4 linked regions of the Homo sapiens genome follow. The protein of the gene in region 4 interacts with the protein of the main gene of each other region in a pairwise test. Each region holds a gene or a part of one and is shown on either strand. Other genes may lie near its edges.

Region 1 (6,289 bases), on a different chromosome or scaffold from region 4:
ACAGACTTGCTTTAAAATAAATGCTCAATAAAGTTTTTCAGGTTGAGGAGAAATTACACCAGAGAGAAACACAGAACATTAGAAATTAATAAAGAACAAAGGAAATGATGAATATCTGAATATGTATTTTTCTCCTCTTAAATTCTTTAAAATATATATATGACTGACGAATGCAAAAATCATAACATTGCCTATAATGTTTCAGTGTATATAGATGTAATATATATGACAACTACAACATAAAAGAAAGTGGATAGAGGTACTAATATGATTATAAGCCTTCTACGGTTTACTGCAAGTGGCAAAATATTAACTTTATGCACACTGTGAAAAGTTAAGTACATTGTAATCCCTCAAGCAACCACTAAAAAATACCACAAAGAGATATAGGCAAATACCCAATAAATAAATTAAGATAAAATATTATGAAATATTTAAACAATCCAAAAGAATTCTGGAAAGAGAATAAAACAGAAGTGGTGAACAGCAAACAAATAAAACAGTCATCCATCTTAAATTCAACAATTTTATTAAATATAAATTGTCTAAACACCAATTAAAAGACAGATATTTTTAGACTGGATAAAAATTATACCCAACTACATGCAGTCTGTAAGAAACACATTTTAAATACAATAATATAGATATATTTAAAGTAACATGATGGAAAAAGATATACCACAAAAACACTAATCAAAAGAAAGTTGACCAGGTGTGATGGCTCATGCCTGTAATCCCAGCACTTTGGGAGGCCGAGGCGGGTGGATCACAAAGTCAGGAGTTTGAAACCAACCTGACGAATGTGGTGAAACCCCGTCTCTACGAAAAATACAAAAATTAGCTGGGCGCAGTGGCATGAGCCTGTAGTTCCAGCTACTTGGGAGGCTGAGGCAGGAGAATTGCTCATGGTAGAGGTAGCAGTGAGCCAAGATCACACCACTGAACTCCAGCCAGGGCCACAGAACGAGAGTCTGTCAAAAAAAGAGAGAGAGAGAGAGAGAGAAAGAAAAGGAGGAAGGAAGGAAGGAAAGAGAGAGAGAGAGAAAGAAAGGAAGGAAGAAAGAAAGGAAGGAAGAAAGAAAAGGAAGTTGAGTGCGTATGTTATTTTTAGACAAAGTAGACTTCAGAACACAGAAAATTATCACAGATAAAGAAGGACATTACATAATGATAAGAGAGTAAATGCACCAATAAGACATAATACTAAACATGTATATATCTAATAATAGAGCGCTAAAATATATGAAGCAAAAGCTGACAGAACTAAAGAGAATTGGACAAATCCACAATTGTACTTCAAAGCATCACAGGACCATTAATCCTGAAATCTTGACCTCAGTTTCTCTCAGGCCTCTTTTGGCCTCAGTTGACTCTCTCTGTGCCTCTGGTTCCACAAAGGAATAACCCTGCCCCAGAGAGTTTAGGGTAACTGTGAAAGCGTGTTCTGTAAGGAGCCCACCCCAACCAGATGTGAGACTGTGAGCATAGCCAGACTTTAGCTACTTGTTGAAATTTTAGAGAAAATCAATAGGAATTTTCCAGCTATGTCTCTCTGGGAAACTCATGAAAGCTCAAACACAGCATTAAGAGTTTGTTGTGGACAGGTATTATTTTGCATCTATCATCCACTCTCCTATTTCTGATAACAGTGTCCCAATTTTGCTTTAGGGAAAATACCTCTACATACCCCTAACTTAAGCTGCAATTAAGTCAATATGAATATTTCATCCTCCTGACTCAGTGATTGGTCAGAAACAGGCACACAACTCAGCCAGAGCAATGAGATGCAAGGTTACACTTGCTGGGGCATCTGGGAAAGAGAGCTTCCTCTCTCCTCTTTGGGCATCACCAGAAAACATGATGTCCATTTAGCCAGATGGTGTGGCTTGGGGATACGAGAGCTGGGCAGGCCACAGTCTTTTTGATATCGGGAGGGAAACCCTAGAACTATACTGTGTAGCACCTGAGGGTAAAGCCTACACTGCGGAAGGCAGAACAGAAGGACATACAGAAAAGGGTCTTGATTGTTTTGAGCTTTGGTTCAAACCTTATCTAAAGACAGAACAACTCTGGTAATTTCTATTATGCAAAGGAATAAATGTTTCCATTTTTCCTTTATTTTTCTTGCTTACAGTAGTTTGCATAATATTTTGGGTTTTCTGTTGTGAATGACATTCACAACACAGAGTTCTGACTAACACAAGGCTTACTCTCACCTCTTCATCCCTCTCTAAACCTCATATCTATCTTTCTCAAAAAATAACAACAAAAATGGAGGCGGGCAGATCACAAGGTCAGGAGTTCGAGACCAGCCTGGCCAATATGGTGAAACCCTGTCTTTACTAAAAATACAAAAATTAGCCTGGCATGGTGGTAGGCACCTGTGGTCCCAGCTACTCGGGAGGCTGAGGCAGAAGAATCGCTTGAACCTGGGAGGCAAAGGTTGCAGTAAGCCGAGATCATGCCACTGCACTCTAGCCTGGCAACAGAGGGAAACTCCATCTTAAAAACAACAACAACAACAAAAAGACAAAGCTTTATATGTGGAAAAAATAATACCTTAATGATTAGCAATACACATATAAGAGAGAATTGTTCAGAATTTAAAACTGTAAGCAAAAAGATAGTTTTTTAAATTTATATATTGATAGAGAATGCTATTTACTCTGTTTTTGCTAAAATCTTTGAAGAACATCACTGGAGTTATTGTCTCCTGAGAGAATGTTTACCACCATCAACTACCTCAACCTGTAATTCTTAAAGAACAATAATAAATTCAGGAGGCCCAGTCTTCCCTGACCCTGTTGGTACTCAAGGAGACAATGGCTTCAGAATTCCTCCATGGGTTTTGCATTTCAGGCTCAAGCTACCTTCTTGATGAAAAATTCTGGACGTGTTCTGAAAATCACAGTCATCCCTAACTTCAGTGGAAAAGATTCATATTGTCCAGCTGAACAAGGATTGATACTTAAAACCAGGGATTTCCTAAAATGAAAATGTTTCTGTGGATAAAACTGATTACATGCAGAGACTGGAATGGAGTTAATTCTGGGTAGATATGGGATTCAAGAGATTGGTCTTCATGAGGCATTTATCAAGGATCTGCAAGGGATTTAGAGGTGACGGAAGCACAGTCCTTCCTGGGCAGTTGCCTCTAGCCTGGTGGGAGGTGTTCCTCACACCCAGGACTCTCATCCATGGCAAAATAAAAAGTGAGATATCGACTGGGCATGGTGGCTCATGCCTGTAATCCCAGCACTTTGGGAGGTCGAGGCGGGTGGATCACCTAGGCCAGGAGTTCGAGACCAGCCTGGCCAACATGACGAAACCCCATTTCTACTAAAAATACAAAAATTAGCCATGTGTGGTGGAATGCACCTGAAGTCTCAGCTACTCGGGAGGCTGAGGCACAATAATTGCTTGGACCCAGGAGAAGGAGGCTGCAGTGAGCCGAGGTCGTGTCACTGTACTCCAGCCTGGGTGACAGAGTGAGACTCCATCTCAAAAAAAAAAAAAGTGGATATCACATCAGAGAAGCTCCTGGCCAGGTGGCCTTGAGGAACAGGGATGAGTTCGGCACTTAGAGATGGAGTTGGCTTTCCCCGTTGGAGGGAAAGGCATGAGAAGGGACATAGGTAAGAGGAAGTAGAGTAGTGCAGGGGCCATTGAGTAGTAGTCCTTCCAAGACAGGACGTCATCATAGAACCACTTTCTCTGAGGAAGCTCTGCTTGGGGGAGGTTTTAATTCATGAGGAAGGCAAATTCAATGGCTCTCAGGTGAGGTGGGAAACAGACACCTACCAACACTCCAAAGAGAACATGTACCTCTATAAAAGGGCACAGTCTAGTGAACAAAGTCCACAGCTCTGGGTTTGATTTCTAGCACTGTCACTTAATACTGTGTGACCTTAGACATTCACTTAACTCTCTCAGCCTCAGGATACAATCTGTAAAAACAGGAGAATGCTTGTTCCCTGTGCCTTATAGGATTGATATGAGCATCAGGAGAGACAGTGGGCACAAAATAGCACTGTCAACTACTTCTTTCTAGTCAGTTATCTGGTCATGTTTGTGAAGCTCCCCAGGACTGGGAACATAGCATATGATTTTTTTAAAGTTACTCGATGAATGAATGAATAAATGAATGAGTAAATGAATGAATAATATCTAAAGGCCTCCAACTAAATAATAATCAACTTCCTAACCGTACTGAAAGCCTTTAATTGACTTTGGGGCTGTTTGGCCTGGAGGAGGCTCTGAGTTAGTGGTGATCAGTTGGTGTCATGGTAGAGAAGAAAGCCTGTGAAGGTGGAGTCATTGTCATTATCAGCATAGAGTCCATTACGCTCTCCTTCCCCATACACCTGGAGCCAGACTTGGTCGCCCACCTCCAGATGCAGGAGCACAGAGCCGGAGGCCTGGTCCACATTATTTTCCTGGTACTGATCATAGGTGAAGAGCATAGCCTTGTCCTTCTTGAAGAGGCTGACCTTCACATCCTTCATATAGACTGTGATGTGGTAGGCAAAGTAGTACAGCCCAGGAATGTTGCAGTGGAATTTACCAGTGGAGCCATCATAGTGGTTTTGCTGATTGTAGAAGATCTTGGTAAAGCGAATGGGCATGTTGGGGATAGTAACGTAAGTCTCCAATCCCACACTGAATGCTGAGCGGTATACATAGGCACCTTCTCCAGGTTCTCCTTTCCTGCCTTGGATTCCCGGAAAGCCTCGGGGACCTTCAGCCCCGGGTACTCCGGTTTCACCGATGTCTCCCTTAGGACCAATAAGACCTAAGGAATGAGAAGACCTCAGTGACTACAAAGAACAGAACTCCTGCCTAGGTTGGTTACAGCCTAAATTACCATCCCTGTGGCTCCCACTCACAACCTTCTTGACTTATAGATCAAGAAACCAATAAGAGCTCCCAAAAGGAGAGAGGTGTTACCTCCTCCTTCTATATCTCCCACAGACATGGAGGCTCCCATAATTTCAACTCTATCTTTATCTCCTATAGGTCTCTATCATAGACCCTCCACCCTGCCAGCCCTTTATGTGCTGGCACCATCAACCCTGGTTTTGCAATTCTACCCCCTCCATCTAGGATGTCTCTCCTCCTCTATTCTGCCTACCCATCATTCAAGGCCTAGCTGAAGCTCTGCCTCCTCCTTGAAGCCTTCATTCTTCATCAGGTCCACGGTGAGTATATTTTCTCTATGCTCCATACTTTGAATACTTGTTCACATTCAGTTTGACATTTTTAGAGTAGACTTTCTTGTAGTAACCACCAACAGAGCCTTGCACATTAGACATCTTACCTAGATCAAGAGTTCCCCAAAGGCAGGACTGAGCCTTTCAGGGGGTGTGCAGTAAATGTGGTTGAATGCCACTGGGTGAAATGGAAGTTAAGCAGACAGAAAGAGGAATCAGAATATGAATGTACTGGGAATAGGGATGAGGGTGAAGATGGGAAAGGGGATGGAAAAGGAGCTGCAGATGCAGCAAAGCCAAAGTCTTGGTTATAGAGGCACCATCTACACTCATCCTTGGAAGACCAACCCCAAATCACTTCAGGTTGCTTATGGTTAACATAAAAAAGCTTTGCTTTCTCCCTGTGTCTAGGCCTTAGTTAATAATGAATGCCTTCATATAGTTTATATCAGTGTAGGAGGTCTGTGATGAAAGAGGCCAGAAACATTCTTACCTGGATCTCCTTTCTCACCCTTCTCACCAGGGGTGCCATCTCTGCCATCACGGCCTGGGGCCCCATTATGGCCCGGATGCCCTGGGATGCCCGCCATCCAACCTGTGCAGGCCCCCTTGGGCAGGGGAAGCAGGACTCCGGGCCCTTGAGTCGTGGTTTCCTGGTCATGACCGGGCAGAGCTAATAGCAGTAGAACAGCTCCCAGCAACAGCATCCTGAGCCCTGGAATCCACATGTGCACTGTCAGCCATGGAGAGACAGACCCCACACACACACCCAGTTGGGACCTACAAAGGACTCCGTCCATCTCAGCAGAGTCTACTTCTAGGAGCTGCTTTCTAAGTATTCAACTTTTCCAGGAAGACTTTTCTGAATATTGCAGCCCACCTTGATCTCTTTCTGCCCTGAAATCTGTAATACTTAGCATTATTCCCTGTGTGTAGTCTCCTTTCCTCACCAAGATTATGAATTCAGTGATTGCACAGATGACACTCCTCTAATTTTCCCATGTCTGAGCACAGGACCAAGCACAGGGAAAGCTCCAAGAGTCGACTTGCCAAGAATCCATCCTTGGGTTTCCCAAGTA
Region 2 (7,035 bases), on a different chromosome or scaffold from region 4:
CTACTCAAATTTATAAAGTTCCATACACTTGGAAGAATCCGTCATCAATAGCCAGGCAGGTGTCTGTGAGTATAGTTATAATCGCCTTTGAGCTATTTGCATTACGAAGGAATGGCATGAAAACATGAAGGTATAGAAGTAAAGATAGAGGACTGATTCCAACCCAGAAAAAGGAGTTCTGATTTAGGGTAATATTTTGGAGAAATTGCTTAGACAAGGATAAGTACTGTGCCACTTATTGCAAAGTATACTGTTCATTCACCACTATTAGTGTGACTGAATTTCTTTTTTTGGCCTGCTTCATTCTTCCTCCCTTCCTGCTTATGGTTAACATAGACTGGCCCTCATTGTCTCATGTCCTCTGCCTTTGTTTCCAAGGCAAAAAGCCCTCCCACGTTTGAGGGGAGTCATGAGCCGTTTCCTGAATGTGTTAAGAAGTTGGCTGGTTATGGTGTCCATCATAGCCATGGGGAACACGCTGCAGAGCTTCCGAGACCACACTTTTCTCTATGAAAAGCTCTACACTGGCAAGCCAAACCTTGGTAAGAAATCAAAGAATTTCTGCATCCTTTATAGGACTTATAGGACTGGCCCTATGCTGTGGTTCCCAAACCAGGCTGTACATCAGAGTAACCTAGGAAACGTCAACAAACACAGGTACCCATTTCCCTCACCAAACCTATTTATTGAACCTGGGTGGAGCTCAGGAATCCAGTTGCTAAAACACTTCCCAGATGATTCTGATGCTGCCTTAGCTAGCCTTTGGCAGCTACTGGAGTAATAGACTTTGTGGTGAGCACTTGACCCTTTTTCCCCCAAGCTTCTCTGAATACTTTTCATTGATTTTACACTGCCCTGGGCAATTCATGTATTTAAAAAAAAAAAAAAAAAAGCATTATAAGGGCAAGTGAGGAAATAGACTTACTTGGTGACTCTGTGATGCCTGACAAGAAAGCCATAAAGAAGCTTTACATATATCTCAAAGCCCTCTTCAGAATCAGGTTTACATGATTCTGGGGCTTACATGACTCATATTCCATGTTACAGATGGAGAGTTATTAATTCAAGGTCTTCCGTGACATAGTCCCTGAGAAGGTATTTAAAATCCCTTCAAGTTGGTCTCCCAAAATGAAACTTAAGAAGGCCCATGGCAGCCTTTCCTGGCTTCCTGAGCCTCTCTACTGAGAGTGTCCATTTCAGCTTCCACTTCATCACGCTGATGTGTGGGGTAGTTTAAGCTGCAGCACTGTTTCACAGCAGATGACAATTCTGTGTCACATTTATAGCTAACCCAGATTCAGGCTCTGACCTAGCTCGTTTTTCTGCAGTGTCTGAGTATAAAATGAAATTAAGTAGGCTAAGGCTCATTTTAAGAAAGCTCAAATATAATAAGAGTAAAGAACCTGGGAAAGTGAGCAGAATAATTCCATCTTTTCACCTTCAAATGCTGCCCTCAGGTGGTCATGGAACCCTATATAGATTCACACATTTTTAGAGGTCATCTGGTCTAGCCCTTTGAGTTTAAAGTTGAGGCAAAGAGGTCCAGAGGTCATGTGACTTAAAGGCATATAGCTGAGCAGAACTTTATGTGTGTGTGTGTGTGTGTGTGTGTGTGTGTGTGTGTGTGTGTGTTCAGCCAGCACGGAAGCTGAGGCTGCCATCTCCCTTGTGATCTAGGGGCCTTCATGGTACTCTTCTGAAAGTAGCAGTGCTCTAAAGTGTCCCACAGAATTTCACCTCATACCTAATCTGGTTAGGGCTGGTTGAGTACTCTTAACTAGAGAAACGTCCTTAGTCTTCTCATTATCAAATTGGTTTATAAAGAATATAGCTATCCAGGGCTAATGCTAGATATTTGGTTGGCATATGGAATTTTTTCTCACTACCATCTAATGGTCTTCAGTATTGTGAATTTGGGAGAGCTGTCTGATTTTCCAAAGGCTGGAAAAATCCTTAAAGCCCAAGTAAACATTAGTAGACTTTTCAGTTGTCAATTTTGTCCCTTAAAATTTATCTTACTCAGCAGGTAGTAGACCAGCAAAGGAAGTATCTTTGCTTTCACTGTTTTGGCATCCCCGAGCCACTGGATGCCTTAGCTCAATGGTTTTGCATTTAAATTACCCAAACAGGGAGTTTCTAGAAAATACTTATGCCTGGGGCCCTCCTCCAGAGAATACGATATAGTTGGTCTGGTACCCAGGCCTTGTAATTTTATAAAACTACCTCAGTTGATTGTAATAAATGCCCAAAGTCAAGAACCACTGTTATGGTGGAATATGACCTATACTTTCAGGACAAGATATTTAATACAGCAATGTCAGAACAAAGCTACCAACAGCAGGATGCCCCCAGCAAACACCAAAGAAACAGTGCTTTGTCCCACTGCCATGCACACAGGAAACCAACCTGGTATTGGTTCATCCAACAGCATAGATCTGGATGCAGGAAGAGACCCAGGCACTCACATATCTTAAAGACCATATATGGGCATCTAAATTGGTCCCCAGTATCTCTGAGTTCTCTCCTGGATCAGCCTTGAAAGTCTGCTGGCCTCCTGGGCATCTTGCATTTCCAGATCAGTCTCTACAACGTTCCCCAAAACCTGTCCTGATCCAGACCCTCTAGGCTTCCAGGACAAAAGGGGTAAATTACTATATCTAGGAGTTATTTGCCTAACTGGGCTCTTTGTGGGTTTCCACTCTTGGAACTTCCCTTCCAACTGTAGACATTTGAAGAGAATCTGAGAAGTTCTCATTCTGGAATTCCTTCTATTCCTTCTAGTTCCCATGTTGCCACTAGGACCTCCATCCTGCCCAGCCACAGAGAGGTCAGGTCCAGCTCCCTATCTCCCATGAACCACCAGTGAAATAGGAGGAGTTTGGAAGGAACCTCAAGTCTCCCCTTCTGAACACTCTTGCTTTTTTCTGCTACACAGTGAATGGCCTCCAAGCTCGGACCTTTGGGATCTGGACGCTGCTCTCATCAGTGATTCGCTGCCTCTGTGCCATTGACATTCACAACAAGACGTATGTAAGGGAAGGAAGAGCTTTAGCATCCTTTTGTTGGAAATCAGATGCGAGGCATACCTGTTACCTTGAGTAATGGGAACTGTTAATCATTTTAATGCATTAGCTTAGAATGTGAATAATAAAAAACTCACAGGTTACATTCCCTCCAAGCCTAGAAAACATAGTAGACCTAACAGGTCTTCATTAAAGTCTGAAAATTCTTTGGAACTGACATAGCAAACTGGCAGGCCATTATCCAGTGGCCTGCATCATGCCCCTCCACTTCTTTATGAAAGAATCAGCCCTTCTTCTACTAAAGAAGTAGAGTGGTATGCTCTTTTTAGAGTAGCCACCCACACATACCTTTCTCACATTCCTCCTTAAGAAGCAGGAATGAACAGAAATCACAATCCATGAAAAAAGAGGAACCCACAAGTAAACTGTTGTATGTGTATGCAGCATCAGCAGGTGAGGGTGAAAGAGAAGCTAGGGCTCCTGAATCTACCTGTCTTGGGTACTCAAACAGACCAGGGTGGAACAATTGCAGGCAATCAGAAGCCATAACCAGTGCTGGCCACTAGAGGGGGCTCGAGCTTTCTTCCCAGCGGGAGTCATCATCACACTCTAGGTGGAAACAGTTTGTTCAGGTCACCGAGGGAGGCTATCTGAATGCCAACTTCACATTAAAATGTTTTTCTGTCTTATCCAGGCTCTTGGCATCTGGGGAAAACAGGAGGCGATAATATTTATTGAGCCCCTCTTATTATGCTGAGCTTTTATCTACGTGATCTTGATTAAGTCTTTTCTTAGCAGCCCTGGAGGTCATGATTTTCATTCCTGATTTTGCACATCTAAATATTAGAGATACAGTTAGTTTAAAGAAAGACTGACTCAAGTGAGATTTGAAGCAGGGCTATTAGCCGTTTGATCTCTTCAACCTTATTTTTTTTTTTAATTTTTTTTCAAACTTGAACCTGCAGTTTACTTGTCCTAGAATGACACATACTTTTGGAAGCAGTGTGTTTAGTTCTGGGCCCAGTTCTGTTGGTAACTAGCTTTGCAGTAGCAAGTCCATTATTCACCTTCCTTGCACCTTGGCCTCTTCATCCATAAAATGAGAATAGATATCTGTTCTACCTCTCAGGGTGACTAAGAGGAAGGGAGGATTGAACAATCATTTTAAAGACCTGTACCACAATGAAGAATTGCTGATGAGTATGAGGGATATATCTTTTGATTGTTGTGCTTTTGAAGTGAGCGAAGACAACCCAGACTTATCTCTTTTTTTTTTTTTTTCTGAGACAGTCTTGCTCTGTCACCCAAGCTGGAGTACAGTGGCACAATCTCAGCTCCCTGCAACCTCCACCTCCGCCTCCTGGGTTTAAGCCATTCTCCTGCCTCAGCCTCCCCAGTAGCTGGGATTACAGGCGCGCACCACCATGCCCCTCTAATTTTTGTATTTTTAGTAGAGACAGGTTCTCACCATGTTGGCCAGGCTGGTCTCGAACTCCTGACCTCGTGATCCACCCACCTTGGCCTCCAAGGTGCTGGGATTACAGGCTTCAGCCACTGTGCCCGGCCTGACCCAGACTTATCTTTACCTCAGTTACCATTTACTTTCACCTCTCCCCACACAGGACAGCTGCAAACGCTGACTCCTGTTTCTAGACCTTTCTAGCCTAGGACTTTGATCGATGCACTTCTGATGTGCATTCTGATCCTATTCCCTCCCTAACTAGAGACTGAAAGTCAACACACATACATATTGTTTCCACAATGGGCCAGGCGCGGGTGGCTTCTGCCTGTAATCCCAGCACTTTGGGAGGCCAAGGTGGGCAGATCACTTGAGATCAGGAGTTTGAGACCAGCTTGGCCAACATGGCGAAACCCCATCTCTACTAAAAATACAAAAATTAGCTGGGCGTGGTGGTGTGCACCTGTAGTCCCAGCTACTCCAGGAGGCTGAGGCAGGAGAATCACTTGACCCAAGAGGCGGAGGTTGCAGTGAGCCAAGATTGTGCCACTGCACTCCAGCCTGAGAGACAGAGCAAGAGTCTGTCTCAAAAAAAAAAAAAAAAAAAAAAAAGGTGTAAAAATATGCACAGGAGAGATACAAATCAAATGTAAGATACCAGTTACTTGTGGGGATGAGGGAGAACAGACTTAGAGCAGGATAAGTATACACAGGATGATTTAACTCTTCTCTGTAAGTTTTTATTAGAAGAGTCTGAAACAAAATGTCAAGATGTTAAGATCTGAGGGAGCTGGGTGTTGGTTGCATTGGTGTTCATTATAGTGTTCAGTAATTTTTTTGTATGTTTGAAGTATTTCATAATTTTAAAAAATTTTATACTAAAAAGATATCAGCAAACAAAGTGGTCAGTCACCTAGTAGCCTGTCTCTTCTCTACCTTATAGTCAAAGCTGAAAGATAAGTTCTTTTCCCATGAGGTTGTCACCATGTCCTCAATGTGACTACTTTTCTAGGCTAAGGCACAAAGTAACCAACGTATATTGCAAGAGCATCTAAAAGCCCCAGAGGTGTCCTTGCTCCTTACTCCCCATGAGGCCGTTCGTTCTGTGGCATCCATCTTATAAACACCGACAAGTGCATGGCCAGATGCCTGCCAGGTGGGATTAGACTGCAGAGTCAACCAATTTGGATAAATAGAATATGTAAGCGTGCTGGATCCAAAGTTGTCTACACTGCCTGCGATTGTCATCATTCAGGCTCTGCTTTGCTATAGCTGAGTTCACCACTTTGCTGAGACCTGGACGTTCATTCTGGATGCCTGAACCATTCTCCTCTCAGTTTAGCAGTTGAAACCTTCAGTTTTGCCCTAGATGAGAATATCGTTGTGATCAAATAACCAGCTCTTCCTCAGGAACAAGTGTCCTTTCTTTTAAGTCTTAATGACATCCTGGGTTCTTATTTGTCTGTATGAAGTCTGATACTTTTCCTCTGTTCTGAACAAACAGTAACTTTGGTTCCCATTTCTGTCTGCTTCCTTATAGGCTCTATCACATCACACTCTGGACCTTCCTCCTTGCCCTGGGGCATTTCCTCTCTGAGTTGTTTGTCTATGGAACTGCAGCTCCCACGATTGGCGTCCTGGCACCCCTGATGGTGGCAAGTAAGCATCCAACCACCCTAGACCTCCTACAGGAGCTGTGCCAGCTCTAGAGCTAGTACAGAGGGTGGACACAGGAGAGAGAGAGAAGAAAGGTACCGTATGTATGTTAGTCACTAGTCTTTCCTCTGTATTTAAGGTTTCTCCATCCTGGGTATGCTGGTCGGGCTCCGGTATCTAGAAGTAGAACCAGTATCCAGACAGAAGAAGAGAAACTGAGGCCAGCATTATCACCTCCAGGACTTTCTCGTTTTCCACCTTGGCCATCTTCTTCCTTCGTCGTCTCTCCTCTTTAATTTCTTTTCTATTCCATCATCTGCCCTTTTATTCACTTTTAGCCTCTTTTTTTAATTTTTAAAATTTAAAGATATGCATACTGAAAAGTATATAACATGTACGTACAATTTAAAGAATAATTTTAAAGTGAATACTACGTAACTCCATCCAAGTCAAGAAATTGCCAGCTTCTCGGAAGCCCACTGTGTCTCCTTCCCCTACCTGCAACCTCTTCCAGGCTCCCTTTTCCAGCCTTCCCCTTTTTCCCTTTTATTTTCATGCCTTGATTTGACTTGTGTGGTGGGAACATGTGAACTATGAAACTTAAACCTGCTGCCCACCCAGAGCAGCTGTGACCAAGGGCTGCCTCAAGGGGTTGTCCACGCAGGTTGGGCTCCTCTCTGCTGCTGGACCCAAGACTCTGAACCTTCCAAGGGACAGGCAGTTCTTCTAAGAAGGGCTCCCCTGTGTGTGAGCAAGACCACAGCTCTCCTTCTATCTACAGATGCATGAGGGTTGGAAGAGTCTGGGCTGTTTTTAGACCTTCTGGTCAGCTGTATTTGTGTAACAACTTTTGTAATAAATAGAAAAACCCTCTGCTCTGATCAGTTCTTGTACTTT
Region 3 (6,913 bases), on a different chromosome or scaffold from region 4:
TTGGCCAGACTGGTCTTGAACTCCTGACCTCGAGATCTGCCCACCTTGGCCTCCCAAAGTGCTGGGATTACAGGCATAAGCCACCATGCCTGGCCAACTTTTACATCTTTATTAACTAATGCACTTAGAATACAGCCGGGCAGCAGTGGGTGAACAAAAATACTTGCAGAATGAGTGGGTATCATTTGCCTTTTTTCCATTATGCATCCTCAAACTCCAAAGCTTGGCTGCACATCTGAACCAACTGCACATATCACCACAAACAACATATAGCAAAGGTGGCAGGGGGTGGAGAGGACTGGAAAAAAAACTGGCTTACATATTTGACAGAGAAAATTCTCAACATTTGTGGCATGCTGGGGCTACAGAGTGGGAGGTCTTTGTCTCTGTTCATACTTATGACACGAACTCAATCGTGTCCCACTCCCAGCCCCCAGTAGCAAACCCTGGCAGTATCACAAGCTCCATGACCAGCTGTACCCTTGAATTTAACACAAACACCAGGAAAGGTTAAGGAATTTTCTTTATTTTTTACAAATTAAGACTATGCAGATTTCATATATTTCTGAATCAAAAACACCTTTGTCTTCACAGTATGAGTTAGAATGCAGCCTGAGCTGAAAATCAAGAAACTAGAAAAGAAAGTGGTAGAGATAACTATATTAAAAATCTGTTAGGTATTTTCTTTAAAAGTAGGTGTTTTTTTTTTTTTCTTTCTTTTTTTTTTTTAATATCTTGTCATTCTTGGCACTGTTTCTAAAGAAAAACTCCATTATCCCAAGCAAAAAGCACAGAAGGTGGAGTTTGGCTTCAAGAGATGTTAACTCAAAATCTTAGGCCTAGCAGAGAATCACCAAATTTATGGAGAGTTAACAGGGGTTTAACAGGAAGGAAGTGCCTTTAGTAAGTTCTCAAGCCAGAGGCTGGAGGCAGCAGCTAAATCAGAGGACAGCATCCTCAGTGAAAGTGAGCCATTCGGGGTGGCATGTCACTCCAGGAATAAACACAACTTAGAAACAAATGATTTCGTAGGATAGCACAGTGACATGGTGCACTGTGAACCTGAGGCCACTGTGTCAAACTGTGCACTGGTTGTGAATAGGGAGAGCCAAAAATTATGTCCTACTGGTAATGAGCTTTCAATGGCTCGATCCTCTCACACTGAAGCTCTGTAGAGCAGCTCAGAGCCACAACCACTCCCAACATTGACCCTTCTGGGGGTAGCTGTCTGTGGCAGCCCACAGGAAGGAGCTGGAGATCCCCATTAGGACTGTCCACCCACACTTGAAGCCACAAAACTGCAGGGATTGGGGCTCTCACTGGTTTGGTCGCCTAACTCCCGCCTAAAAGGCCACAAATTTCTGGAAAACAGGTAACAGACCAAAAACTAAAGTGCATCAGTAAAATGAACATTTATCTACTGCCCCGAATCTCTGGCTTGACACTACCTACTGGTGTCCAGTTGGAGACAGACTAAAATGCACTGAAGGACTATTAGGATTGCTGCCTCCTAAGTTATCACAGCCTCGCTCTGTTGATGTGAATGAGGAACTGCTTGGTTGTTAAAGGAGATTTTGCTCCCTGCTGCCCCAAACAGGTCCTTATCTAGGTTTGCTCCCCACTGCCCCAAACAGGTCTGGCAGGATTGGTTACAATGATCTCCAGAGGCTCAACCATTCCCCTTCCCTATCCTTGCTTGGGACATTTAATCACAGCCACCTAGTAGAGGCCGCTCAGTAAGGGGATAACAAACTAAAAAAACAAAAACAGGGCAAGTTTAGGGGAACCCTACGATGCTGTACCTTGATACACATAATCAGCCTTTTCAAAAATGCCTGACAAGAATTAGTCTTTCCTTTGTGCTGAAGTCTTCCCACCCATGGATGGAAGCAGGCTGACTCCCTGAGGGTCAGGCAAGGGGTGGGAAAGGGAACACATTACTTTTGTGAAGGCAAAGCAGAAAGGTGTGTTTGCCAGACCAGCATGGGCAGCTCAGAGGGAGCAAAGCATCCACCAGAAGAGGCTCTCCATTTTCTTTGTAGGGCCTGACAGTTGAGATTTGAGGCTGAGTTAACAATGGGACCACTGAACTTCTTTCCAATGGAAAACTCACGGCCCAGTCCCACAGGAACTGTGCGCATACCAAACAACAATGAGGAAGGAAGGGCCGGGTGGCTCTACCAAACAGTTCAGGTCCACTGGGTGAATGAAGCCTGGTGGGAAAGCGGACTCCTGAAGTTGGCGCCCTCTGCTGGTCCCACTTCTCATCGTGGCGGGTCGACTGCCTGAGTAGAGGAAGAGGCTACAGATGGGGTTGACAAAAAAGGGAGTGAGGGGAACCCCAGGAAGATGAAGCCAAACTCCAAACTATATTCTGCTAATCAGTTTTTTGATCAAAAAATTCAAAATAGAGGAAACCACAAAGTACAAAAGCTTTTCTGATGCTTTTCATTATCACAGAACACACCACCTGTAATGTGTGCAAAAAGGAAATGAGGGGTGGAAGGAGAGGAAGTCTAATTGGGAAAGGCTGGATGGTCACTTCATTTCTTCTCTTTCTTCTTATCCTAGAAATGGAGAAAAATCACCCAATTAATTTTTTGACATTTGACATTCAAGCTAAAACTCTTGAGTGAGCATTTAGTTAGGGACTAGAAGTGAGCCAGACAATTAAAAAGAAATGAGAAATGCTTCCTTAGCTCAGCAAGAACTGAATCTTAACCACATCCTACTGGTGGTTCCCAAAGTTGCCGACAGACCGACCAAGAATAAAGGTTAAGCAGCTGTCCCCACCCCCACCCCAGGAGTGCCGAGGTGGGCTGCCTGACCACTCTAGGCTATTCACAGCCACTACAGCTCAGATCCCAACAGTGAAGGCTGCAGATGGCACTCTATCCTCAAAGAGTGAAACTAGAGGCCAAGACCACCAACCAACCATTAGGCGCGAGAAGTGCTCCACCCTGCAAAGTGAGCATGACTCTGGCATAAACTGACATTCAGAAATAATTTGGTCCAGCAGAATTCTTCATTCAATCTTGGATGGAAGCCCAATGTATTAAGGAATGAAAATTCAGTTGCTTGTTCTGAAACTTGTACATCTGCCTAGTGCTCAGTCCAACCATGGCATAGCCCAGACAGAGCCAGCAATCCTATCTGGTCAACTACTCCCGCTACCACTATGCTATCTCTAAGCTCCATAAGGTCTATAAAGAAAAGCTCATTTCATTTGTTTCCCCCACTGCTTGACTCAACTACGTTAGATACTCATTAGCCCTATATAGAATGCTTCCTTGGAAAAAAAAATTAACAAATGGATAAAATTAGTCTACTTCTGAAATTTACAACGTCCTCCACAATACCTTTCTCTGAGTCACAACTATATAGCCTTTAAATTATTCATGTAGCAGGTTGTGTTTACTGCCACTGAAGCTTTTTTCCCTTTCATACTAAACGCAGGAATTAGTTAAAAAAATTTTTTTTTCACTTGCTGCTTTTTTTCTAACAACTGAAGACTTCTGGCTTACCTCTTACTCAGTGGCCTGCCTTACAGTTACCCTGGACCTAACACAGTGTGTGAGCAAGTTTTCAAATCTGAAGTATACACACATGCCAAGCTCAGGAGCCATTATTGTCTCATCTTTGGGTTGTAGGCTAACTAACCTTTTCATTCATGGCCAGGATCATCATGAGTTTTCTGAAGACAGTAATGAAATCTAAGAAGAGATCAATGCAGTGCCTGAAAGGCAAGAACCAGATTAGGATCTGTACTTCAGACTTTTTTATCCACAAGCCCACAAAGATGCAGAATATAAACCCCACCCCTACCCCCACGAGCCAGCTTCTCCCACACTTTACCCCCAACTAAGGAAGTAAAACTCTGGTGTCTGAGATCCTTTAGACTCATCGAAGTCATGCAGCATAGAGAAAAGAGACTGGGCCAGGCACAGTGGCTCATGCCTGTAATCCCAACATTTTGGGAGGCTGAGGCAGGTGGACTGCTTGAGCCCAGGAGTTCGAGACCAACCTGGGTAACATAGCAAAATCCCGTCTCTACAAAAATTAGCAGGGCATTGTGGCATGTGCCTGTAATCCCAGCTACTGAGGAGGCTGAGATGGGAGGAACACCTGAGCCCAGGGAGCTTGAGTCTACAGTAAGCCATGACAGTGCCACTCTCCTACTGCAGCTTGGGTGACAGAGCAAGCCCTGTCTCAAGCGCTCTGAACTCTGCAGAGGTCCAAGTCTGAACCCTTAACTACCACTAATTAGTCATGAGACTGAGAGAATCACTACATTAAAAAAAAAGTGCCGAGCACAGTGGCTCACACCTGTAATCCCAGCACTTTGGAAGGCTGAGGCGGGCATCACCTGAGTCAGGAGTTTGAGACCAGCCTGACCAACATGGAGAAACCCCATCTCTACTAAAAATACAAAATTAGCCGGGCATGGTGGTGCATGCCTGTAATCCCAGCTACTCAGGATGTTAAGGCAGGAGAAACACCTGAAGCCGGGAGACGGAGGCTGCGGTGAGCCAAGATCACACCGTTGCACTCCAGCCTGGGCAACAAGAGCGAAACTCCGTCTCAAAAAAAAAAAAGTGAGCTGGGCATGGTGGCCCATGTCTGTAATCCCACCACTTTGGGAGGCTGAGGAAGGCAGATTGCTTGAGGCCAAGAGTTCGACACCATGTCCTCACGGGGCAACGTGGCAAAACCTCGTTCTACTAAAATTACAGAAATTAGCTGGACGTGGTGGAGAGTGCCTGTAATCCCAGCTACTAGGGAGGCTGAGGCACAAGAATCGCTTGAACCCAGGAGGCGGAGGTTGCAGTGAGCTGAGATGTTGCCACCGCACTCCAGCCTGGGTGACAAAGCAAAACTGTCTCAAAAAAAAAAAAAAAAAAAAAAAGTGGCTGGGCATGGTGGCTTAAGCCTGTAATCCCAACACTTTGGGAAACCAAGGCAAGAGGACTGCTTGAGACCAATCTGGGCATATGGTAAGACCCCATCTCTACAAAAAATAAATTAGCCTGGCATGGTCGCACGTGCCTGTTGTCCCAGCTACTCAAGAGGCTGAGGCAGGAGTACTGCTTGAGCACAGTAAATTCAGGCTGCAGCGAGCTGTGTTCATGGCACCACACTACTGCCTAGGCAACAGAGCGAGACCCTGTCTCTAAAAAAAGAGTGTATCTTCTACTCATTGTTTAAAAAATACAGAAGTATAAATAGGAAAAGGAGAAAGATCTCTTTCCCTCACTTCTGCTTGGAGGTAGCCACTATGGATATGTAAATATATAGCCACCCCCCAACACTTTTTTTTTTTTTTTTTTTGAGAAGGAGTCTCGCTCTGTCGTCCAGGCTGGAGTGCAGTGGTGCAATCTCCGCTCACTGCAAGCTCCGCCTCCCCGGTTCACACCATTCTCCTGCCTCCGCCTCCTGAGTAGCTGGGACTACAGGTGCCCGCCACCACGCCCGACTAATTTTTTGTATTTTTAGTAGAGACAGGGTTTCACCGTGTTAGCCAGGATGGTTTCGATCTCCTGACCTCGTGATCCGCCTGCCCCGACCTCCCAAAGTGCTGGGATTACAGGCGTGAGCCACCGTGCCCGGCCCCCACACTTTTTTTTTTTTTTTTTTGAGACAGGGTCTCGCTCTGTTGCCAGGCTGGAGTGCAGTGGTGCAATCTTGGCTCACTTCAACCTCCACCTCCTAGGTTCAAATGATTCTTATACCTTAGCCTCCTGAGTAGCTGGGATTATATACATGTGCCACCATGCCCAGCTAATTTTTTTATATTTTTAGTAGAGATGGGATTTCGCCATGTTGCCCAGGCTGGTCTCAAACTTCTGAGCTCAAGCGATCCAGTGGCCTCAGCCTCCCAAAGTGCTAGGATTATAGGTGTGAGCCACCACACCTGGCCTATTAGCCCAGATTTTTAAAAAATCTGAAATCTTTCAGGAATTGAGGAAGATTATGGTACACAGTTCCAAAACCGTGGGTTTCCTACCACATACACTCCCAAAGCTTGGCCACCTATGTTCAGCCAATGCCAACCTAAGTTCAGCTGCTGAACGGTATGCCTCAACCTTCATGCTTGTTAAAGACTAGTTCCCACACTCACCAGATATAATCTTGATCTCCATGTTCGGCCTTTTCAATAATGAGTTGAGTATCAAAAAGGACGAAGCCACACATGACCACCAGTCCCACATACAGGTTTGCCTAACAAATGTAAGAGATGAAGTTACTATACAGCAGAAGTTGCAGAGAAAAAAAAACCAGCCATACTTTCTGGCTCATAGTCACTTGAAAGTACATCAAATGTGAACCCTATGAACATTACCATTCACGAGAACTGCAGCCTAGGGTGAAGACCACTTTACTTCCCTAGGCACAATACTGCACTGGTCACTGGAAGAGTTTCAATCATTTTAACAATCAGCCACTGCCAGACTGGCCTTACACAAATGGTGTCTGAGCAAACCATTTTCTCTTAGCAATGCCCAACCTTGTGCAGCCTGTTTTCACTTGTGGCAGAAGGCTCCATCCTATGAAGGATAATGGGAAGGCTTAGAGAGCACTGCCCAAAGTAGTACAGAAAGAAGTGCAAAAAAAAAAAAAAAAGGAAAGAAAGAAGTGTGAGGCAAATGGCTGCTGGAAAGTTCCAGGCTAAGTCTTACCTGGAAAAGCCAAATGGATCCAAAGAAAACATTCCCCAGGGAAGACAAAAGCAACAAGCTCAGGGCTGACATCAAGATACCTATAAGACACAGCAAAAAGCTGTCTTGAGAGAAGCCAAGGCAAAGTAAAGCAATCCCATTAAAGCCATTCCTTAACTTCCCCCAGAATGAAGGTTAATCTCAACTCAATAGTCGCAAAGGAGTTAGGGGTAAGGAAGGAGTACTAGTGAGAATTC
Region 4 (4,986 bases):
AGTCCTTTGGATGTTAATCCGACTGGGTCGGTGCACCTAAATAATTAAATAATTCCTCCTCAACCCCTCAGTCTCTCTGGTTCCTTAATTATCCCGCTGCAGAATGGATTAAAAAATAAAGAAATAATTATTATATAAGTAGGATACAAGTGTTAGAAAAGAACCTTTGCACATACGATATACACGTAACTAAGAATAAATTATTGGTATAAATTTATGGACACAATAAGTGCTTATATTTCTTATTCATAAATTTTATTTTTCTTGGATATTTATGAATAAGAAATATAAGTGCTTTAGCAGATTTATAAACGAGGAACTGAGGGAAGTTTTCACGCCACATTGCCACCTCGAAAAGATGGCTATTGGAGTTGTTGGAGGTTATACGAGGAGCCACAATGGAAGTGTAAGTAAGTTTTCCACTGTATCTCTCCAGCACATCTGACCACAATCCCACCTTAGCTTTCACCAGCAACAGCAAGACCAACAACAACAGCAACATCATTGTCAAGTACCTGTGGTGCTGTTTCACATTTTCTTTTTATTTTCATTTAACCCTCAGAGCAACCGACAAAGTAGTTGTTATTATTACACCTATTTTACAGATGAGGAAAAATAGATCAGAGAGATTAGATAATTTGCCCATGTTCATACAGGTAATAAGTGACAGTTTCAGAATTTGAACCCAGATGTGTCAGATTCTAAAGGCCTTATTCTTTAGTTCTCTACTTTACAGTTTCCCATTGTCCTTTGAAGAACACATTTGGGCTTGCTCTCAGACTCGCCAACATAAATCATCATTTACATATCAGGGCATGTGTGAGTTCCAGCAGTTCACTGAAATAAAATCCCTGAGCCTTAACCCTCCCATCTCAAATACAGTGAAAATTTATTTTAATGATAATGATGGTAATTTTTTATTTGACACTTTTTATAATGCTGATGTTAAAGTCAAGAAGCATTTCTCTGTAATGGAAAAAATGTCTCATTTTTCTTCCTACTGGGCGGTCAGAAGTTGGATTTTAGAAAAAATATATTGAATAGGGATTATACCGCCTTCCTTCCTTAAACCTCATAAAGCAATGGAGTAGGTGGATAAGAAGAAATAGAACCAATTTCTGGAAACAACTTTGGAGTAATGATCATAGAAGTTACAGATATCCAAGAATGCCTAAAGAAATATATCTGTCCTTCCATACCCACGACACACAAATAGGATTTATAGTTAGGAGAGAAAGGATAGAGTCAGTCAAACGTCCAAGGTTCTTGTGATTGGTGCCATGATAGAAGGATTGAGCTTTACGAGCAGGCTTATGTTCTCCTGAGTTTGTGGGTGAAGCTCTGAGTCACTGGAGATTTAAGGTCAAATATTCATGCTCTCAGAATTAAGGAGGTATTCTTGATTACACAGAATTGGGAGGTGAGGAAATTTCCTAGAAAATAAAACAACATTAATGTCCAAGAACAGGATCATTATCTCCTTCTCCTCCCATCCCTTCCTGTTATCATCATAATCATCAACAATAAAATCCATTCATTGATGTTTACTGTGCCAAATGCCATAAAGATTATATACACAGTACTCACAACAAACATTAGAAGAGAATGAAAATATTATTTTCATTTTACAGTTAATATATCTAAAATTTAGAAAGAATTATTAATTTTTCCTAGGTCATACAATTAGAAAGTTACAAGTTATAAGAAAATAATAAAACTTAATTACAGCTGTATAAGAAAGTATGCTCTTATATATCAAGTACAGTATTTCCTCTTGCATGTTCACATCCAAATTCTTTTCTACCCTTCATTCCATCTCTAACATTCATACAATCTCTAATTCCAGGAACTCCACAAATCATTACCACATAAAGGTTTATTTCTAAGCATCAGAAACAACTTCAAACCCTACAGGGAGGCTTTGAGATCATGTGAATGATTAATCATTTGAAAAATCTCACCTCTCTTGAATTACAGCAGTTTGCATTGCACCACATGGCTATGGTAGAGATGGTTACGCATAATTCCAGCAAGGTGAGAATCAGCAGTAGAGACACCATGCCCTAGGGGATATGATGCCTTATATCAAACCCAGTGGCAACATCCAGAGGTAAAAAAAAAAATGTCAGCAGGAAACCAGACTACAACATCTCCCTCCCGTAAAGTGGAACAAAGTGAACCATAAATTAAAGACAGAGACACATATAACACTGTAGAAGAGATAGTATCTCAATCTAAAAGCATGAAAACATTTTCTCTAATGAGAAAGATGTGTCACATTTCTATGTCAACGCATGTGAAGTAGCTACAGGGGGAAGAAGCTGTAGAAACAAAATTCTGACATTATCACTAACATCTTCCAATCTGAATAGTAGTAAACTAAGGAGAGGAGTAGGCAGTTTAGAAAAATGAACAAAAATGGCCCTTCCACAATTTCATTAGCACTTCATAGGGGTTTAGGCATTTACATTATCCCTAGAAACTAAAACACTGAGCTAATATAAACAAAAAATAAAATTGTTGGGCTAATGATTCTACTATTATTACTGAGGCACCTAGAAGCAACCAATACAATATATCCCTGGAGGAAAAATACCTCCAAATTCACAGAAAAATCAGGCTCCGACAAATATAAATTTAGATCATTAAAAATGTAATAAAGAAAATGAGAACACAAACTTCCATAAGTAGTGTCTCACCCATAGGTGGGAACTGAACAATGAGAACACTTGGACGCAAGGCGGGGAACATCACACACCAGGGCCTGTCGTGGGGTGGGGGGCTGGGGGAGGGATAGCATTAACAGAAATACCTAATGTAAATGACATGTTAATAGATGCAGCAAACAAACACGACACATGTATACATATGTAACAAACCTGAACGTTGTGCACGTGTACCCTAGAACTTCAAGTATAATAATAATAATAAAAAGAAAACAGGAAGCTTAGGAGTGAGTCTGTAATTAACAGTTCATAGATCACTGGGATGAAATGGATAATTCCAAAGGAAAATATTAATTTCTAAGTAGAGTTCAGAAGAGGTAGAGTACCTGAACACAAATTTTTAAAAAATTGGTAAGGTTGGCTGGGCGCGGTGGCTCATGCCTGTAATCCCAGCACTTTGGGAGGCAGAGGCGGGCGGATCACGAGGTCAGGAGATCGAGACCATCCTGGCTAACACAGTGAAACCCCGTCTCTACTAAAAATACAAAAAAAAAAAAAAAACAATTAGCCGGGCGTGGTGGCGGGCGCCTGTAGTCCCAGCTACTCGGGAGGCTGAGGCAGGAGAATGGCGTGAACCCAGGAGGCGGAGCTTGCAGTGAGCCGAGATGGCGCCACTGCACTCCAGCCTGGGTGACAGAGCAAGACTCCGTCTCAAAAAAAAAAAAAAAAAAAGGTAAGGTTATTAAAGAGCTTTCCTTTGAAAACACCATGCTAATTTCATTCTAAAGCGCAGTCCTTCAAAACTTCAAGTCATTATTTGAACATTCCAGATTGCAGAGAAAGTTGTAAATCTCTCAAGTTTGTTTTATTAAGCAAGGAGATATGAAATGAAACTTTATTTTTTTATTTTTTTATTTTTTGAGACAGTTTCACTCTTTTTGCCCAGGCTGGAGTGCAATGGCGCAATCTCGGCTCACCGCAACCTCCGCCTCCCGGGTTCAAGTGATTCTCCTGCCTCAGCCTCCCAAGTAGCTGGGATTACAGGCGCCTGCCACCATGCCCGGCTAATTTTTTTTTTTGTATTTTTAGTAGAGACGGGGTTTCACCATGTTGGCCAGGGTGGTCTCGATCTCTCGACCTCGTGATCCGCCTGCCTCGGCCTCCCAAAGTTCTGGGATTACAGGCGTGAGCCACCGCGCCCGGTGAAATGAAACTTAAAAAAAAATCTCTCTGGGGAGTGTAATAGTAGTAGTTGTGGTAATAATAATTGTGTATCATGATATGCTAAGCCTTGTTTTAATTGCTTATCATATGTTAACTTTTTAAATACTCACATAAATCCTATGAGACGGGTACTATTGTTATCCTCATTTCAAAAATGAGAAAATTCAAGGGATTATCTAATTTGCCCTTCATTATAAAGCAAATAGGCGACAGACCCAAGATTCAAATTATGGGATGGGCGCGGTGGCTCACGCCCCTTATCCCAGCACTTTGGGAGGCCGAGGCGGGCGGGTCACGAGGTCAGGAGATCAAGACCATCCTGGTTAACACGGTAAAACCCCGTCTCTACTAAAAAAATACAAAAAATTAGCTGGGCATGGTGGTGGCCGCCTGTAGTCCCAGCTACTCGGGAGGCTGAGGCAGGAGAATGCTGTGAACCCAGGAGGGCGGAGCTTGCAGTGAGCCGAGATCACTCCACTGTACTCCAGCCTGGGCGACAGAGCGAGACTCCGTCTCAAAAAAAAAAAAAAAAAAGATTCAAATTATGGCACATTGGTACCTGATATATTATTTTTCTGTACATCCTGGATTGTTTGAAATATTTTATACTTATACATATTTTTCAGAAACATACATTTGATATGGAGCCCATGTAATTGCATAGGTCCGGTGACTCTGATGAAGAGTGACAACTCCTTAATGACTGGATATTAACTGCTATATTTAGTGAGAGAAAAGCAGTCCCCACTAGTGCAATTGTAGCACTGGCAATGTTCATTCCAAAACTGTTCTGTATCTAAAAAAGAATAAGAATTTTCAATTAATATATGCAGCACGTACTTCATTCCTTTGGCAACAATTCATTGAAACAAACATTGATTGAATATTGTTTACACACCCACTGATATCCTAGATGCGAGGCTAACATCAATGACCAAAGAAAGATTTCTGTCCCCCACCCTCCATGGAGCTTATATTCTAGCAATAAAAACAAAGAAAAAAGTAAACATACTATAGGTAAATTACATAATATTTTTGAAAGTGATTAAGTACTAGGGGCTAACAGAATGGGATAAGGAGAATCTGGGAATCCAAA

What was found.
Region 1: the proteins of MS4A3 (region 4) and ADIPOQ interact in binary tests that used the Homo sapiens proteins (3 or more experiments, as listed by UniProt).
Region 2: the proteins of MS4A3 (region 4) and ERG28 interact in binary tests that used the Homo sapiens proteins (3 or more experiments, as listed by UniProt).
Region 3: the proteins of MS4A3 (region 4) and TMBIM6 interact in binary tests that used the Homo sapiens proteins (3 or more experiments, as listed by UniProt).

The regions. Positions count from the first base shown.
Region 1 is NC_000003.12:186,852,687-186,858,975, reverse strand, and holds the end of ADIPOQ (adiponectin precursor), read right to left. Parts: exon of another isoform or gene 5,926-6,289; 5' UTR 5,918-5,925; coding exon 5,704-5,917; intron 5,199-5,703; exon of another isoform or gene 5,104-5,198; intron 4,844-5,103; exon of another isoform or gene 4,793-4,843; coding exon 4,272-4,792; 3' UTR 513-4,271; downstream 1-512. UniProt on the Homo sapiens protein: Important adipokine involved in the control of fat metabolism and insulin sensitivity, with direct anti-diabetic, anti-atherogenic and anti-inflammatory activities.
Region 2 is NC_000014.9:75,650,877-75,657,911, reverse strand, and holds part of ERG28 (ergosterol biosynthetic protein 28 homolog), read left to right. Parts: intron 1-378; 5' UTR 379-409; coding exon 410-542; intron 543-2,935; coding exon 2,936-3,026; intron 3,027-6,022; coding exon 6,023-6,141; intron 6,142-6,277; coding exon 6,278-6,357; 3' UTR 6,358-7,035.
Region 3 is NC_000012.12:49,758,527-49,765,439, reverse strand, and holds the end of TMBIM6 (bax inhibitor 1), read right to left. Parts: intron 6,758-6,913; coding exon 6,678-6,757; intron 6,220-6,677; coding exon 6,119-6,219; intron 3,737-6,118; coding exon 3,661-3,736; intron 2,568-3,660; coding exon 2,544-2,567; 3' UTR 506-2,543; downstream 1-505. UniProt on the Homo sapiens protein: Endoplasmic reticulum (ER)-resident protein that confers cellular protection as an anti-apoptotic protein by limiting multiple stress-inducing pathways surrounding the endoplasmic reticulum and mitochondria.
Region 4 is NC_000011.10:60,066,651-60,071,636, reverse strand, and holds the end of MS4A3 (membrane-spanning 4-domains subfamily A member 3), read right to left. Parts: intron 4,687-4,986; coding exon 4,525-4,686; intron 2,064-4,524; coding exon 1,962-2,063; intron 1,434-1,961; coding exon 1,404-1,433; 3' UTR 522-1,403; downstream 1-521. UniProt on the Homo sapiens protein: Hematopoietic modulator for the G1-S cell cycle transition. Modulates the level of phosphorylation of cyclin-dependent kinase 2 (CDK2) through its direct binding to cyclin-dependent kinase inhibitor 3 (CDKN3/KAP).